2 linked regions of the Homo sapiens genome follow. The protein of the gene in region 1 interacts with the protein of each later gene in a pairwise test. Each region holds a gene or a part of one and is shown in the gene's direction. Other genes may lie near its edges. The genes, in order: MYO7A and VEZT.

Evidence for each region.
Region 2: the proteins of MYO7A (region 1) and VEZT interact in a two-hybrid assay, tested with the Homo sapiens proteins (one study listed by BioGRID).

What each region holds. Positions count from the first base shown.
Region 1 is NC_000011.10:77,207,997-77,216,008, forward strand, and holds the end of MYO7A (unconventional myosin-VIIa), read left to right. Parts: intron 1-433; coding exon 434-521; intron 522-700; coding exon 701-807; intron 808-3,155; coding exon 3,156-3,341; intron 3,342-3,824; coding exon 3,825-3,941; coding exon of another isoform or gene 3,942-4,274; exon of another isoform or gene 4,275-4,590; intron 4,591-4,617; coding exon of another isoform or gene 4,618-4,638; exon of another isoform or gene 4,639-4,664; intron 4,665-4,955; coding exon 4,956-5,039; exon of another isoform or gene 5,040-5,040; intron 5,041-5,863; coding exon 5,864-5,983; intron 5,984-6,610; coding exon 6,611-6,700; 3' UTR 6,701-7,245; downstream 7,246-8,012. UniProt on the Homo sapiens protein: Myosins are actin-based motor molecules with ATPase activity. Unconventional myosins serve in intracellular movements. Their highly divergent tails bind to membranous compartments, which are then moved relative to actin filaments.
Region 2 is NC_000012.12:95,276,588-95,284,599, forward strand, and holds part of VEZT (vezatin), read left to right. Parts: intron 1-5,725; coding exon 5,726-6,057; intron 6,058-8,012. UniProt on the Homo sapiens protein: Plays a pivotal role in the establishment of adherens junctions and their maintenance in adult life.

The sequences.
Region 1 (8,012 bases):
GGCTCTGTGTGCCTCTGTGTCTGTTTCCTCACTTCATGCCTGTCTCTGTGCCAGACGCTGGGACCCAGAGGTGACCCCAATGAGGTCCTAGACCCAGGGGAGCCCAGAGCTGCAGGAGGAGCTGGACATGGATGCCAGAGAATGTCCAAGCCAGGGGCTGGGCCGCATTCTTGGCCAGTTTCCCTTGAGTCTAAGGCAGCGTTCAGTGTCCCAGGCACTGAATGGAATGACCATCGCTCCCGGCAAGAAGTGGGCTCTTCCGGGGACACTCAGCAGGCACATGGGGCAGGGTGGGGCTGACACACAGAAACCCCTTCCGGCTGGGAGTGGAGTCTTCCCTGAGAAGGAGCAGCTGCCAGACAGGCCTTAGGTGGGAAGGTCAGAAAATGCAGTGTTGCTTAAACTGAGTGTGCTTCGATGGCCCTGACCCCAGGTCCTCAGCGTTCCTGAGAATGACTTCTTCTTTGACTTTGTTCGACACTTGACAGACTGGATAAAGAAAGCTCGGCCCATCAAGGACGGTAATGAGGCCGGGTCCTGGGATCATCTGAGGCCCAGAGCAGGGAAGTGTGGGCTCGGGGCTGTGCCGTGAGGCCCACCTAGGCGGGCCTGAGTGAGGGCCTCCTCTGGGTCTGGGCTCGGGACGTGAGCACTCCTCTGTGCAGGGACCCTCTGGGTGACCGACTGCCCTGTGCTGCAGGAATTGTGCCCTCACTCACCTACCAGGTGTTCTTCATGAAGAAGCTGTGGACCACCACGGTGCCAGGGAAGGATCCCATGGCCGATTCCATCTTCCACTATTACCAGGTGGGCACCTCTGCACTCTAGTTGCCTTCGTGCACAGCTAGCGTTGCTGTACTTTGGCCCTGAAAGCAGAGACCCACTGACCTTGCCAGGTGTGGGGCCCGTACCAGCCTGGCCTCAAAGGGATTCCTGCCAAGACCACTGGAGCCCCAAGGGATGGCCCAACCCCTGATCCTTGTATCTTCTGATTCTTCAGCCCTTAGGGGCTTGACAGTTCCTCCTCTGAGCTTCCGATCCCTACCTGTTCAGGCCCCTCCTTCAGTGCGGGGCTATCCTCTGACTTCGAGATTCTGCTGTTGTAACTGGGTAATTCCAAGGCCTCTGTGCAAACATTTTCTAGCATAGGCACCTGCAGGAAGCCGGGAGGGAAGCTTGCATGTTGAGCCTCTATTATGTGTCTGGCACTCTTCTCTCATTCTGTCCTCCCAACTAACCCCAAGAAGCAGGCATGTTGTCCCCATTTGACAGAGGGACAAAGAGACTCAGGCCGCGTGCTGTGATTAGGATCACACAGCTGATGGAACTGGGGTTTGATTCCAGGTCTTCATGACTGCAGGTTGGTGCTCTTTTCTGGGCTCAGCCTGCTTACCATTCTGTGGGAGAAAAACCATGATGCTGGGAAGGGCAGAGGAGGCAGGGACGGTGGCTGCTGTGGCAGAGAGGACACTGGCCTGGGAGTGAGAAGGACTGCCCTCATCCAAACCTGGGATCTACCTTTCCTCATGCCCCTCCCCACCCACCCCATGCTGCCCACTGAGTGCATGGCCCCTGGACTACCAGTTCCCCCAGAGTCAGCCTTGACATCTGCTCCTCCTGTCCCACGTCCCAAATCACTTACCTGATGACTGTACCTCCTGGATATCTCTAAAGTCCCCCATGTCTCTCCATCACCACCTTCCCAACCTGGGTCAGTCTACCATCATCTCTGATCCAGAATGGAGGCAGTGACCTTCTCCCTGTTCTCCTCATCCATTTTGGTCCTTTCAATCCTTTCTCCACAGGGTGGTCATCCTGCTTTCCAGATTCCCCCAGTGGATTCCCCTTGCTCGTAGGGCATAACCCCCGTCCTGGCCGTGGCCCTGCCTGGTGGTGCCACTAACTGCTCCTGCTGCCTTGCCTTGTACCTGGCTCTCCTTCAGCTCAGCTGGATTGTTTCCGCTTCTCAAGTGTGCCACAGGGCCTTTGTAATGTTGGGATGCTCTTCCCTCAGTTCCTTCCCTCACCTACTGAGCTTTTAGATGTCAGTCAGCCATTTTATCTTAAAGGAAGTCTGCCCTGTCCTCAAGCCTAGATTAGGTCACCTTGTTATATTCTCTTACAGCACTGTGGACAATTCCTTCAAAGGTTGTCATTATATATCTGTTTGGTATGATTTTTAATGTCTGTCCTTGCCCTGAGACTACAAGTTCCATGGAAGTAGGGAGGGTAGGCATTGTTGCTTAAAGGGCCTGGCTCATAGATGTTCAATGCATGCTTGTTGGATTGACAGATGGGTGAGTAGGTAAACTGGTGGCTCAATGAACATAGAGATGGGAGGATGAATGCTGAGTGAATTGATGGGTGGATATTGGTAAGTGAATTGGTGAGTTAGGTAGGTGAGTGGGTGGATGGGTGGGTAGATGGATGGACAGATAGGGAGATGGATGGAGGTAGATGTGTAGGTAGATAGACCCATAACCACATGGATGGGTGGGTAGGATGGATAATGATTGACTCAGATCTCTGACTGACAATGTATCCTCAGGCCAGCCTCAGTTTCTCTACCTTTCAAATTGTGTATAAGATGACCATAAGGCTCTAGGAGTCTGTGGGCAGCGCCAGCCCTTCAGAGGCTTCATCTCTGCTCTGGGCCCATTCCCCAGCCTAAGTTCCTCTGGTTTTGGGTCTGGAAGTTCAAGGGGGTGGGAGGGCCTCTGCTACTGCTAATGAAAGCAGCTGGTCTCAAGAGAACCCAATGCAAGGAGGCCAGACTGAGAGGCTCTTCCAGAGGAGGATGGGCCCAGGAGGTGAGGGGTATGGAACAGTCTCAGGGTTGCCAGCTGGTCACTCTGAGTTTCTTCATCTTGAAATGGGGCTGCTCATCTCACTGGACTGTTATGGGGGGACATGAGGTAACAGACATGGCCATGCACTCCAACTGCCAACTGCTGAGTCTGTGCAGGCAGACTTGCTCTGTCCCTGTCCTGTGCCGTATCCCCTGGGGGAGCAGTGTCAGCTGAGGCTGGAGAGGTGGGTGGGCCCATGTGCGGGGTAAGGTGGTAGACCCCGGCGTTGGGGGTCTTGGTGTGGTGGGAAAGGAGCCCACTTCTGCCAGGTCCCTGCACGCCTGTGACCTGCTCTGTCTCTGACAGGAGTTGCCCAAGTATCTCCGAGGCTACCACAAGTGCACGCGGGAGGAGGTGCTGCAGCTGGGGGCGCTGATCTACAGGGTCAAGTTCGAGGAGGACAAGTCCTACTTCCCCAGCATCCCCAAGCTGCTGCGGGAGCTGGTGCCCCAGGACCTTATCCGGCAGGTCTCACCTGATGACTGGAAGCGGGTGAGCATGGGGTGGGCATCGGGAATGGTGGGGCCCTGAATGGGCCTCGGGGCACCCCAGGGGCCAAGGGGGCAGACACTGGCCAGCAGCCCAGGGAGGTGCATCTTGTGGTTCTTGTACTTGATGAGGCCGCCCACCCTTGTTCCTCCACCTGCCTTATCCTTCAGTCCTCCATGCCAAGGACTCAGTGGCCACTTGGCAGTCATTTATCCTGTCCTGGTTACCATGGTGACCTGTTTGTCCTTGATACCCTTTGGTCTGCCTGCCTGGGGGTGAGAAGGGAGGTCGGGAGTCCATTAGCTGAAATATGGGGAGAGCCCTTCACAGTCCCCAGGTCTGCTGTCCTAGTCCTGGCCCTGAGGGTGCAGACGGGGCTGGAGTGGGCAGGGGTGGTGTGGGGAGGACTCTGAGCTCTGAGCTGGCCTGCCCTGAGCAGGCCTGTCCCCAGGACTGAGCCCAGCCCTGACCGCCCTGTCCCCATAGTCCATCGTCGCCTACTTCAACAAGCACGCAGGGAAGTCCAAGGAGGAGGCCAAGCTGGCCTTCCTGAAGCTCATCTTCAAGTGGCCCACCTTTGGCTCAGCCTTCTTCGAGGTGAAGGTACACCATGGGCTTCTCAGAGCAGAGGAGGAGGGGAACAGGGCATTGATAAAGCACAGAGACTCCTCCCTAGGACTGTGGGAAAGAGCCATGGCCTTGGACACCTGCCCTGGTGAGGGAAGGAGGGCAGCACCCTCAGCCTTGTCCCAGCTTAGCGTCTTAGCTGGGGTAAGTCCTGGGGACAGAGGGACCAGAAGAAGCTCAGCCTGGCAGTGGAGGCAGACATGTAAACAGGCTGGGGTAATGGAGGATGGCCTGTGTTCTGACACTGGGGAGCCCTCGCCCAGGTGGCAGAGCTCGGGAGGCTCTGCCGGGTGTGAGAAGGCCTCTTAGAGGAGGTGATATCTGAGCTTTCCAGGCAGACCCTGGAAAGAGTGCTCCTGGCAGGGGTCCCACATAGACAAAGGCCTGGAGGTGTGAGAACTCAGGTCTGGGAAGGAAATCCAAGTAGTGAGGGCAGGAGGCGAGAGTGGGCTGTGGAGAGCAGCAGCTTGGCAAGCAGGTGAGAGGCTGGGTTTCCTGCAGGGGTGGCCTGCCTTGGAGGGTTTTGAACACAGGTGACGTGGCCAGAAAGCCTCTCAGGCTGCGGGTGGAGGAGGGGTCTGAGGGGCACAACAGAGGCAGGAGTATGGTGAGGAGGCTGGTGTGAGAGGATACGTATGGTCTTATCACACAGCTAGGATGGGAGGCCTTTTGAGGAGCTTGGCTGTGCGAGGAGAACAGGTAGGTAGCTGGAGGCAGGTGCAGGGTCCAGGAGGCTTTTTAAAGATGGGAGGCCCTTGGGCTGAGAGGGAGGACAAAGCAGAGGATGGCCTGGGGGACCCAGGAAGGGATGTGGGGCAGCACTGAGGGCCCAGCGGAGGTGGAAGCCATAGGTCATGGCAGGGCCGTCAGTACCACATAGGCAACAGGAGAGGCTGACTTTATCCCAGCTGGGGCCAGGCTTCATTCCTGTCCCCAAATGCTTTTCTTGCTCTGGGCCCCCATCTGATGCCTTCTCATCTTTTTTTCTAGCAAACTACGGAGCCAAACTTCCCTGAGATCCTCCTAATTGCCATCAACAAGTATGGGGTCAGCCTCATCGATCCCAAAACGAAGGTGAGCAGGGATAAGGCAGCAAGTGGGGGCGGGCTTCTCTGCCTGAACCACAGACACGGTCCCAGAACGAACCCCACAAGCCCTCCTAGCCACCATCTATCTCTAGACTCATCCACCCATCACGTGGCTTCAAAAGCTGTCAGCGTTTGCTAGGACTTTACCCAACGCTTGCTCCACCAAAATTGCTCTCCTGAAGTTACTAACAAACTCCTTCCTATGGAATGTGAACTCCCTTTAGTACTTGGCCTTTCAGTATCACTGGATGCTCTGCCCATGCAGGTCATGGGGCTGGCTGTGCAGGGGTGACCGTGCATCTGTGTTTCTGGGCCAGAGCAGCCCAGCTGCACACCCAGAGGGTCCGACTGGACAGGTGGTGAAGAGGGCTCGTGACCACCATCTTTCCATTGGCTTCATGCATCACGCATTCCTGGCTGTCCTCTGTGTCTTGGTCATTCCTTCCCGGACCCTTTGGTGCCTGCTCCTGTACACCGTGTTTCCCAAGGTTCTGCCCTGTCTTCTTCTTGGCTCCCTCCTCAAACTCTCCCTGGACCATCTCATTCAGGCCACGGTGTCAGTTCCCTCAGGTCTCCCAATTTCCGAGTTCTGGCCCCAAGTACCCAACAGCCTCCTAGACTTCCTGGGTGTCCAAACCAAGGTGTGGAGGGGGAGGCACCTGCTTCCCACCGCAGCTGGATGGCAGAGCTGGCTTTTCCCTCCGGCCATGGGCTCCTCTGAGGGCCTGAGGCCTTCTGTGAGGGCATGTGTGGGCAAGTGAGGCCACAGGGCCCAGGCCGTGCCTCTCTATGCCCTTTCTGCTCCCCCAGGATATCCTCACCACTCATCCCTTCACCAAGATCTCCAACTGGAGCAGCGGCAACACCTACTTCCACATCACCATTGGGAACTTGGTGCGCGGGAGCAAACTGCTCTGCGAGACGTCACTGGTGAGGGCGCATCCTGCTGGGCCTAGTGGGCTCCCTGCCTTGCCTGCAGCGTAGCCAGCCTCCCAGGGCCTGGAACAAACACAGTAGTGTGCGGCTGGGCCTGGGGTCGTGGGCAAGGGTCATGCTGGGGCCAAGGTCAGGTCAGTTTGAGGCTCAGCTTAGGTCTGGGGAAGGGACTTAATCTGGGGCTGAGGAACAGATCCCTCGTTCAACAACTGTTGTCTGAGTGCCTTCAGTATCTGGGGATCGGGCCCACTGTGACAGCCCTTTAGCCCCCCGAGTTCAACAGTGGAACCATTAACAATGAGACCTCCTTGACCAAGCTCAAACTTCCAAGGCATAGCTCAACTGAGAGCCAGTAGGGTCACTCTTGGAGGGAGGGATCCGTGACTTGAGGGACCCACAAGCTAGGGGCTTAATGTGGGGTCATAACAGTGTAGAACCTTAGCCATCTGGCTGGATGAATTCAACCCTTCAATTGTGCAGATGGGAGATAAGCCCTGAGTAGGAGGGATTTGCCTTTGTCCTGGGTTCTGCCCATTGCAGATTCCTGGGAGCTGTGCTATGGTCTGAGTGGCTGGCCCTGTCCCACCGTGTGCTCGCTTATCTTCTCACCCCTGCTTCCAGGGCTACAAGATGGATGACCTCCTGACTTCCTACATTAGCCAGATGCTCACAGCCATGAGCAAACAGCGGGGCTCCAGGAGCGGCAAGTGAACAGTCACGGGGAGGTGCTGGTTCCATGCCTGCTCTCGAGGCAGCAGTGGGTTCAGGCCCATCAGCTACCCCTGCAGCTGGGGAAGACTTATGCCATCCCGGCAGCGAGGCTGGGCTGGCCAGCCACCACTGACTATACCAACTGGGCCTCTGATGTTCTTCCAGTGAGGCATCTCTCTGGGATGCAGAACTTCCCTCCATCCACCCCTCTGGCACCTGGGTTGGTCTAATCCTAGTTTGCTGTGGCCTTCCCGGTTGTGAGAGCCTGTGATCCTTAGATGTGTCTCCTGTTTCAGACCAGCCCCACCATGCAACTTCCTTTGACTTTCTGTGTACCACTGGGATAGAGGAATCAAGAGGACAATCTAGCTCTCCATACTTTGAACAACCAAATGTGCATTGAATACTCTGAAACCGAAGGGACTGGATCTGCAGGTGGGATGAGGGAGACAGACCACTTTTCTATATTGCAGTGTGAATGCTGGGCCCCTGCTCAAGTCTACCCTGATCACCTCAGGGCATAAAGCATGTTTCATTCTCTGGCCCGACAGTGTCTTTGCTCAGGGAGGGGAAGTGGAAGGGAAGGGCATGTGGGGTCAGGACAGGGCCTTGCAGGGGAGCAGCCTATATAACGACTTCTTTGGTCTTAACCTGCTGGGGCCAAGCTGGTCTGGGTTTGGGGGTTGGGGAGCTTGAGCTCAAGATGTGCCTTAAGTGGCTTAAAGGGAAGAGCTGAGATTGGGGTGGGTTGGGAGGAAGTGCTGGACATCAGGCTGGGAGGTGAGGACCAAGTGTGCATGAGCAGCTGGGGGTCTAGAGGAGGAATCAGCTTCTGGGCTGTAACTAGGGCCAGTGGAGCCACAGCGGCCCTTGCACCTGCCAGAAACACCTTGGCTCATCAAGACATGTCCAAGAACCCCAAGAACAATGCTGCCTTGGGTTAAATCTTCATGTCCAGTGGGTGCCAGTAAAATGTTACTTTGTGACCAGCATGGGACAACCAGGTTTGGCCATGACTGGAGTAGGGCTGCGGGTGGGGGTTTCAGACAGGGAAGGTGTGACTTAGAGGTGGGGCATCCTCAGACTGTGGCTGGGATGAGCACCTAGAGAAGTGATTGATTGATTGATTGATAGTGGAGAATCCCCTTGTGGGGAGGGTTTGTGATCTGCCCTCGAGGTCCCATACTTCAGCAGAGCCAGGTCCTGCTTCTTTTCATACACTACAGTGTCTGGGTCATCAGCATCTGTGTGTCTGTCTACCCCACAAGGAGTGCTATTCCTGATCTCCTTAGCTGTTTGTTAGTGTAGGACT
Region 2 (8,012 bases), on another chromosome or scaffold:
ACATTGATCCAAATGTCTTAAGTTCCTACTAAGTATTTAGTAAGCTCTCTTTAGATGTTTCTTTGTTTTTAGTTTTTAAAACTTCCCTTGATACCGTGAAAATTAGTGCAAGTATTGTTGTTAGCATTTATCAAGATCCATTTTGTTTTGAGACTGTATTGACTTCCATATCTTTTACATTTTCTAAATCAACATAAATGTTCTAATAATCTTGTTTGTTTTCTTTCTTTCCTATTACGTAAAATTTGCTTTGGCTTATTCCTACTCCCCTTCTAACCCATCTCAATAAATGGCACCACAAAAAACCTGGACACCATCTTTCTTGTCCCTCTTTTTGCCCACTCACATCCAGTCTGTTAGCAGATTCTTATGTCACTTCTACCTTGAAAATGTATTTTAAACCCATCCACTTTTTTCTATATCCACCCCCGCCCCCGCACCATCCTAGTCCCAGCCACCATGCTAGTCCCAGCCACCATCATTTCATACTTAGGCTGCTGCAGTACTTTCCTCAGTTATCTAAAGTTATTTGTTTCAGAATGCAACTTGACATGTAAAGAACCTTTTTAATGATTTATCCTTTGAATTTGTAATTCCCCTTCTACAAACTGCAGGAAATTATTTAAAACATAGTTAAACTTTATATACCAAGCTGCTTATTCACTTTGTGTTTATAATAGTGCACAATGGAACACTGCCTGAAAGTTCAAAAATAGAGGAATGGCTGTGTGAGTCATGCCAGAGCCACATGGTGAACCATTGTGTAGCAGCTACAGCTTGCCCGTGAAAATTCTGTAAAAACTTGGAGAAACATCTGTTGCCAGTGAAACAATCAGGATACATAAGTGTATATGCAATATGTCCACAACCCTGTTTAAAAAAAAAAATGAGGAGAAAATACCAAGATATATATAGCTACTCTTTGGGGTGGTGGGACTATAGATACTTTCACACCCTTTCGAATTTAATATCCTAACCTTGCTTTATTCTTTAAGGAAAATAAAGATTTTTTTCAAAGTACAATTTAAGAGATTCTTAATGTGGAAAATGGAGCAGACCTGTGTTTATATTTTAGCCCTGACTGACTAGCCATTTGCCTTTGAATAAGTTATTCTTTGAACTTATGTCACCTGTGAAAAGGAGTTACCATCCCTGCCTTATAAGGTATTAGATTAAATGAGAAGACATATTAAATACCTAGAACAGGGCTTGACATATAATGGGTACCCCCAAATGGTAATAGCTGTTATTCTTTAAGAAGGACTTGGAGAAAGAATTATAGTATTTCATTTCCTTTTAAATTACTTTTTGTTAACTCATCAAGATGCCTTGGAGATTTATTTCTTTATGCTGTTGATGTACTGTTTTTAAAAGCTTATTAAATCCTGAATTGTACTCTAGCTTAAGTATAGGCAGCAAAGAGAAGTTGTGGACCCTGTGGAGTCAGATTTTCCAGGTTTCACTCTAGCTCCGTTATTTGACTACTGTGTGGTCCTGAGCAAATCATTGTTTCTGTGTTTATTAAAATGGGATAATTGCAATGCTTGCCTCCAAAGGATTAGATGTTTGTCAGTTCAGTGCCTGGTGTAGAGTAAGCAATTAATGAATGTTAGCTGATTTTTAAAATTCTATCTGATATGGCCTGCTCTGAAATGTGAGACTTGTTCTCTGTTGCTGTATCCCCATCCTACCTTCCAACAATGGTGATTATAGCTAGATTCCTTTTGCTCACTCACAGTGTTTTACAAATCAAACTATAATAGTATTTTTATATTTCTTTTATTTTTACATATAACTAACCTGTAACCAAACTCAATGATTGTGTTACAGTTACCACATTTATCAGGCTCTGAAAGGAGCCTTATCTTGAGGAGCTCTATAGACTTTGCAAACTGTTGAAAACCCCTGTAATGTTCAAAGACTGTGTATTACCCCCTTCTGTAGTTACCACTGTATCGTTATTCAGATAAGAAATTTAAAAATAGATTTTGTAAGTTAAATTTTTAAAAGTGTGTTGCCCCCTCTAAAGAAAATACATTTTGGATTTATTTTTTATTGTTCCCGTATCTTCCCTCAGGAAAGTTTAGTGATAGTAAGTATTGCACCTTTAGAAAGAAAAGCAACCTCCAAATTGTAGCCTGAGGAGACATAAATAAAATACAGGTTGAATATTTCTTATCCAGGCGTGAGTCTTATCCAGGCCTGGCACCGTGGCTCACGCCTGTAATCCCAGCACTCTGGGAGGCCAAGGCGGGCGGATCAACTGAGGTTGGGAGTTTGCAACCAGCCTGACCAACATGGAGATACCCCGTCTCTACTAAAAATACAAAAAATTAGCCAGGTGTGGTGGTGCATGCCTGTAATCCCAGCTACTCGGGAGGCTGAGGCAGGAGAATCGCTTGAACCCAGGAGGCGGAAGTTGTGGTGAGCCAAGATCGTGCCATTGCACTCCAGCCTGGGCAACAAGAGCGAAACTCCGTCTCAACATAAATAAATAAATTAATTGATTAATTAATTTCTTATCCAAAATGCTTGAGACTAGAAGTGTTTTGGATTTTGGATTTTTTCAGATTTTGGAATATTTGCATTACACATTGAGGTTGAGCATCCCTAATCCAAAAATTTGAAATTTGAAATGTTCCAGTGAGCATTTCCTTTGACTGCCATGTTGGTGCTCAAAAAGTTTCAAATTTTGGAGCATTTGGGATTTCATTTCAAAGTTTTGGATTAGGGATACTCAATCAGTCCCTAGAACACAGTCCTTATCCCTCTCTTTTCCTTTAAGTTTTTAACTAGTTTTTTAAATTTATGAAGTCATCTGTTTCCTGCTCTAGAAAAAATAAATGCACACATTGTGAAATGCTTTAAATCAAAATTTTCTGTTTACCTATCAGCTATGGTTATCTCCTTATCCAGAGGAGCTTTCCTTATCCAAAGAACAAACAGGAAAAAAGAAATACATATTTCTGAGTTCTGGTTTAAGTGGGTAATGTGACAGTGATTGGATGACAAATTAGTCTTTAGAGACAAGGTCTTGCTCAGTCACACAGCTGGTGTGCAGTGGTGCAATCGTGGCTCACTGTAACCCTGAACTCCTGGGCTCAAGCGATCCTCCCACCCTAGCCTCCCAAGTAGCTGGAACAACAGTTATGTGCCACCATGCCTGACTAATTTTTAAGAAAATATTTTGTAGAGGCAGGGGTCTCACTGTGTTTCCCAGGCTGGTCTCCCAACTACTGGCCTCAAGTGAGCCTCCCAAAGTGCTGGGATTACAGGTGGGAGCCACTGCGCCTGGCCTTTAGTCTTTTCAAAAGCCGCAGTAAACTGTACCAACTTGATTCTTGCAGTTATCTTGACCCAACATGCTGGAATCATCCTTGTTAACTCTTTTTCTCTCAATACCAATCAGTCAAGAGATTGTGTTAGTTCTGCTTTCACAATGTATCCAGAGTCCATCTGCTGCTCACCTTCCACCACTAACCACCGTGGTCTCATTAATGCTTACCTGGAATATTGCAGTAACTTCCTTACTGGTTTCTCCACTTCTACTCTCATTTTCCTATAATCTCTCAACTCAGCAGACAGTATGGGCCTGTTAACGCATAAATCAGATTATGTCATGCTTCTGCTCAGAACCCTTCAGTGGCTCCCCATTGCTTACCTGGCCCCAGCCGTACTGAGCTTCTTGCTGTTCCATAGATCTACCCTGTGTGCTCCCACAACAGTACTTTGCATTTGACTTCCTGCTCCCTAGAACTCTCTTCCTTGATGATTATCTCATGGCTCACTTCCTTCAGGTGACACTTTTAGAGACCTCCCCAGCCAGCCCCTTCTCCTCTCTCCTTCGCGCTTTCTGTCTCTCTCCCCCCCTTTCATATGTGTACACACACATACACACACACACACACACACACTATTCCCCCCCTTTCATATGTGTACACACACACACACACACACACACACACACTATTCCTCTTCTTTGCTGTGTTTTTCCCATCAACCAAGAAACACTATCTTTCTTTTTCTTCCTCGACAATCATTACTGCAAAAGGGAAATAGTATCTTTTACTTGTAAATTATTATCTGTGCCCCTCTACTTGAATATAAGCTCCATCAGAGTGGGGACTCTTCATTTTTGCTCACTGCTGTTTATCTGCACCTAGAACAGTGCCTGGCACATCATGGGTGCTCAAGAAATCATTTCTGAATGAACGAACAAAAGAATAAAAATCATTGTAATCATAAAATTTAACAGTTGAATAAGAAGGCTTGCAAGTAAACTTGCAAGTCAAGAATCCCTAGATATCACATCTGTAGCAACTAGGAAATTAGGCCTTGGTCACTTTAAAAAAAAAATAAGTTAATGGTAAAATAGATATACATGAAATAATCTTAATTCATTATTGGCATAATTTTAAAATTCATTTACTAAAACCATCTAAATACTGTCTATTTTCATGGTTGTGAATAATTGGAATCTAAATTACCCAAAGTGGTTTCATCCTCTTTTTATTCCCTGCTACCTCTTGTTTCATACTACATTGTTTCCTCATGCATTTGTTTCGGAGATATTGTCCTCATCTTGAATAGGACTATATCTGGAGAAATATTTTGCTGCCAGGATTCAGGATGTATCTCAGGAACGGGCCTATGAACATATTCAGACTGCATTTTAAAAAAAAGAAGAAGAATGGGATTTATCCTGGCAACATACTGAGACCCCATCTCTAAAACTTAAATATTAGCTGAGTATGGTGGTACATGCCTGTGTTTCCCGCTACTCAGGAGGCTGAAGTAGGAGGATCACTTGAGCCCAGGAGTTTGAGGTTGCAGTAAGCTATGATAGTGCCATTGCACTCTAGCCTGGGCAACAGAGCAAGACTCTATCACAAAAATTAATTAATTAATTAATTAAAATAATGGGTTTTGCAATTTCTCATGTCAGACATTCCTGGAGTATTGATTTTTTTTTTTTTTGGATGGAGTCTTGCTGTGTCACCCAGGCTGGAGTGCAGTGGCGCCATCTCAGCTCACTGTAACGTCTGCCTCCCAAGTTCAAATGATTTTCCTGCCTCGGCCTCCGAAGTAGCTGAGACTACAAGCACATACCACCATGTCTGGCTAAATTTTGTATTTTTAGTAGAGACGAGGTTTCACCATGTTGGCCAGGCTGGTCTCAAACTCCTGACCTCAAGTGATCCATCCGCCTTCACCTCCCAAAGTGAGCCACTGCGCCTAGCCCTGGACTGATTTTTATGTTAATTTCTTAGCTAATTCCTAGGGCAAGGTAATAGTCTTATTTTGAAACCCAAGCTTTTGATCCATGTGACTCATTTCTTTGGAGAGAAAAAAATATATATATATATGTATATATATCCACTAGTCCTACTATCTTCTTTTCTCCTATGTGAAAATTTTTTTTAAATAATGAGTGAAGATTCACTTTTACTAAATTATCTCATTCCATCAACACTTCCCATCTAGGGCAGAACTGTAGTAAATTATATATTGATGTTACCTGCTGTATTGGAATCAGAGGTTCCCACACACATAATTTGAAATCATATTCTTGGCTAATCTTAAGGTAGTTTAAGTTCGGCTATATTTATTATTTAGGATAAAGTGCAAAATTTAAACCAGAAGTTAAGATAAACAAATTTATAGTTTGTTTTGAACACTGACCAATATTTTTATTGATCTAGTTCTTTTTTCTTTTTTCTTTAAGGTTTTGTTCCAACTCTGGGTGGCACAGAGTTCAGAGTTCTTCAGACGGTTAGCCCTATTACTTTCTACAGCCAATTCACCTCCTGGGCCCTTACTTACTCCAGCACTTCTGCCTCATCGTATCTTATCTGATGTGACTCAAGGTCTACCTCATGCTCATTCTGCCTGTTTGGAAGAGCTTAAGCGCAGCTATGAGTTCTATCGGTACTTTGAAACTCAGCACCAGTCAGTACCGCAGTGTTTATCCAAAACTCAACAGAAGTCAAGAGAACTGAATAATGTTCACACAGCAGTGCGTAGCTTGCAGCTCCATCTGAAAGCATTACTGAATGAGTAAGTTTAGAAATTATACCAAGAAAGGTCTCGGTAATTAGCAAGCTTCATTCGTGTACCATTGTGGTTGTTGGCTTGTGTCCTACCTAGAAAAAAGAAACAAAACTGAGGCATGAGCATGAAGGGTGATTTATAGCTATAAATATAGCAAAAAAAAAAAATAATTTATAAGTACTATAACTTGAGGGAGTTATTATTTATAGTTTTTACTTTTCCTTAGTTCAACAGAAAACTTGGAAAAGTAGGCTAAAAGCAGGTGTTGTTCATTCTCTTTGAGAGCTGAAATGGAGATGGTTATAAAGAATGAGTTTCTTTTAACTGTCTTAAGGTAGTGCTCTTAAACTGGAACCTGCAGTCCAATAGAAATATCTACCAGTACTGGAACAGTATATATGTTATATATAGTGGAAGAGTAACATATTGCTATTTTTCTAAATAAATTACAGCAGATCTGAAAATTTTTTTGTATCACAGGACAAGCTTTGTGGTCCCAGTTGAAGAGCAAAATGTAGAGTCTAGAGTTTATATTTGTTCATTTCCTACCTTGCATGAAATTGTTGGTATACTACCTTAATTCCTAAATTTTTATGTCCCACTTTGGTATACCTTTATCAGCTGAAAATACTATTTTCACATATTTGTACATGGAAGTTTTCAAGTTTAAAAATTGAATCAAGGCATTTAATTGAATACAGTCATTTCCAGTGAAATTTTTCTCTAACAGTTAAATACTCATCGTGTAGGACTGGATCAAATGAATGGTTGGGTTCAAATTGTGTTGGTAATCAGGAAGGTCCTAGGAATTTAAAGAGCTGACAAGATTGTAGTTGATGTACTTGACCCTGGGATACAAGGCAAGAAGTGGAATGGGGAAGGCAGTATTTGATTATGTAAATAAGAATGGGTCAAAAGGACTTGATACATCAGCAAAATCAAAAGGCTAAATCAGCAAATCAAAATCACTGGAATTAGGGAGGATAAGAGATACAAGGATAGGAACTTAAAGTCAGAAAGATATTTTTAGAAGCTAAGTTTTTACCCATCAGTTCAAGGCCTGAGTTGGGCTTGATATAAGGCTTGATATAAGGCTGATATAAAGATTATGGCATAGGAAAAATGAAGACACTATGAACTCAGGGTATTCCAGTGGTCTATATCTGCTGTTCTAAGAAAGCAGGTAAATGCTAACGAGGCTCTTAGCCCTGCCTTCTACAGGGAACTGGGCGATAAGGCCATCTCCACTTGAGTGGGTGGCAAAGGTTGGATTGTCCTCAAAGGAAAATAAGATTTCAGTGGACAGGTTGTAGGCAAAGCCAGAGCCTCCGAAGAAGTAAGTTTTGGCAATAGAATCAGAAATATACGGCGCATATTAGAATGCATTTGAGTGAGGGAAGATGGCTCAGGGAAGAAAGAGTGCTACACAAGGTAGACATGAACACAAAAAAGAGGAGCTTTGTACCATGAGCAGGAATTGTGGATTATGCATAGGAAGTTTTTGTCCTGTTTTAAAGTGTAATATTCTATACATGCTAATGTCTCTCACCTTTCTAAGTATTTTCACTAGAAAGTACACCAGTCACAAACCATCATATCCAATTTGCTCTGTAGTGCTGCTACATACAACTTTTTGAATTGTTAACTAAATAATTGTTTTGTGTTTCATATTTTAGAATGCTCTTTTTGTGTCTCACTCCTCTCCCCCTTGTGTTCTTTGCTGTTCCCACTCTCAGTGCCTCATGTGGAACCATATTGTCTCTTCCCTACACTAGGGCATTAATTTCTAACTGTTCTCCCCACCTCCAGGGTGTGTATGGCCAGATTAGTGTTACTGAGGCATATATTTGCTTTCTCACTTCACTGAAAATCTTGACTGGTTTCGGAGTCATAGCAGCTCAAACTAAAGTCCTTACAAAACATACTATAGAAGGGTTTGTCATAACCTGACTACAGTCTGT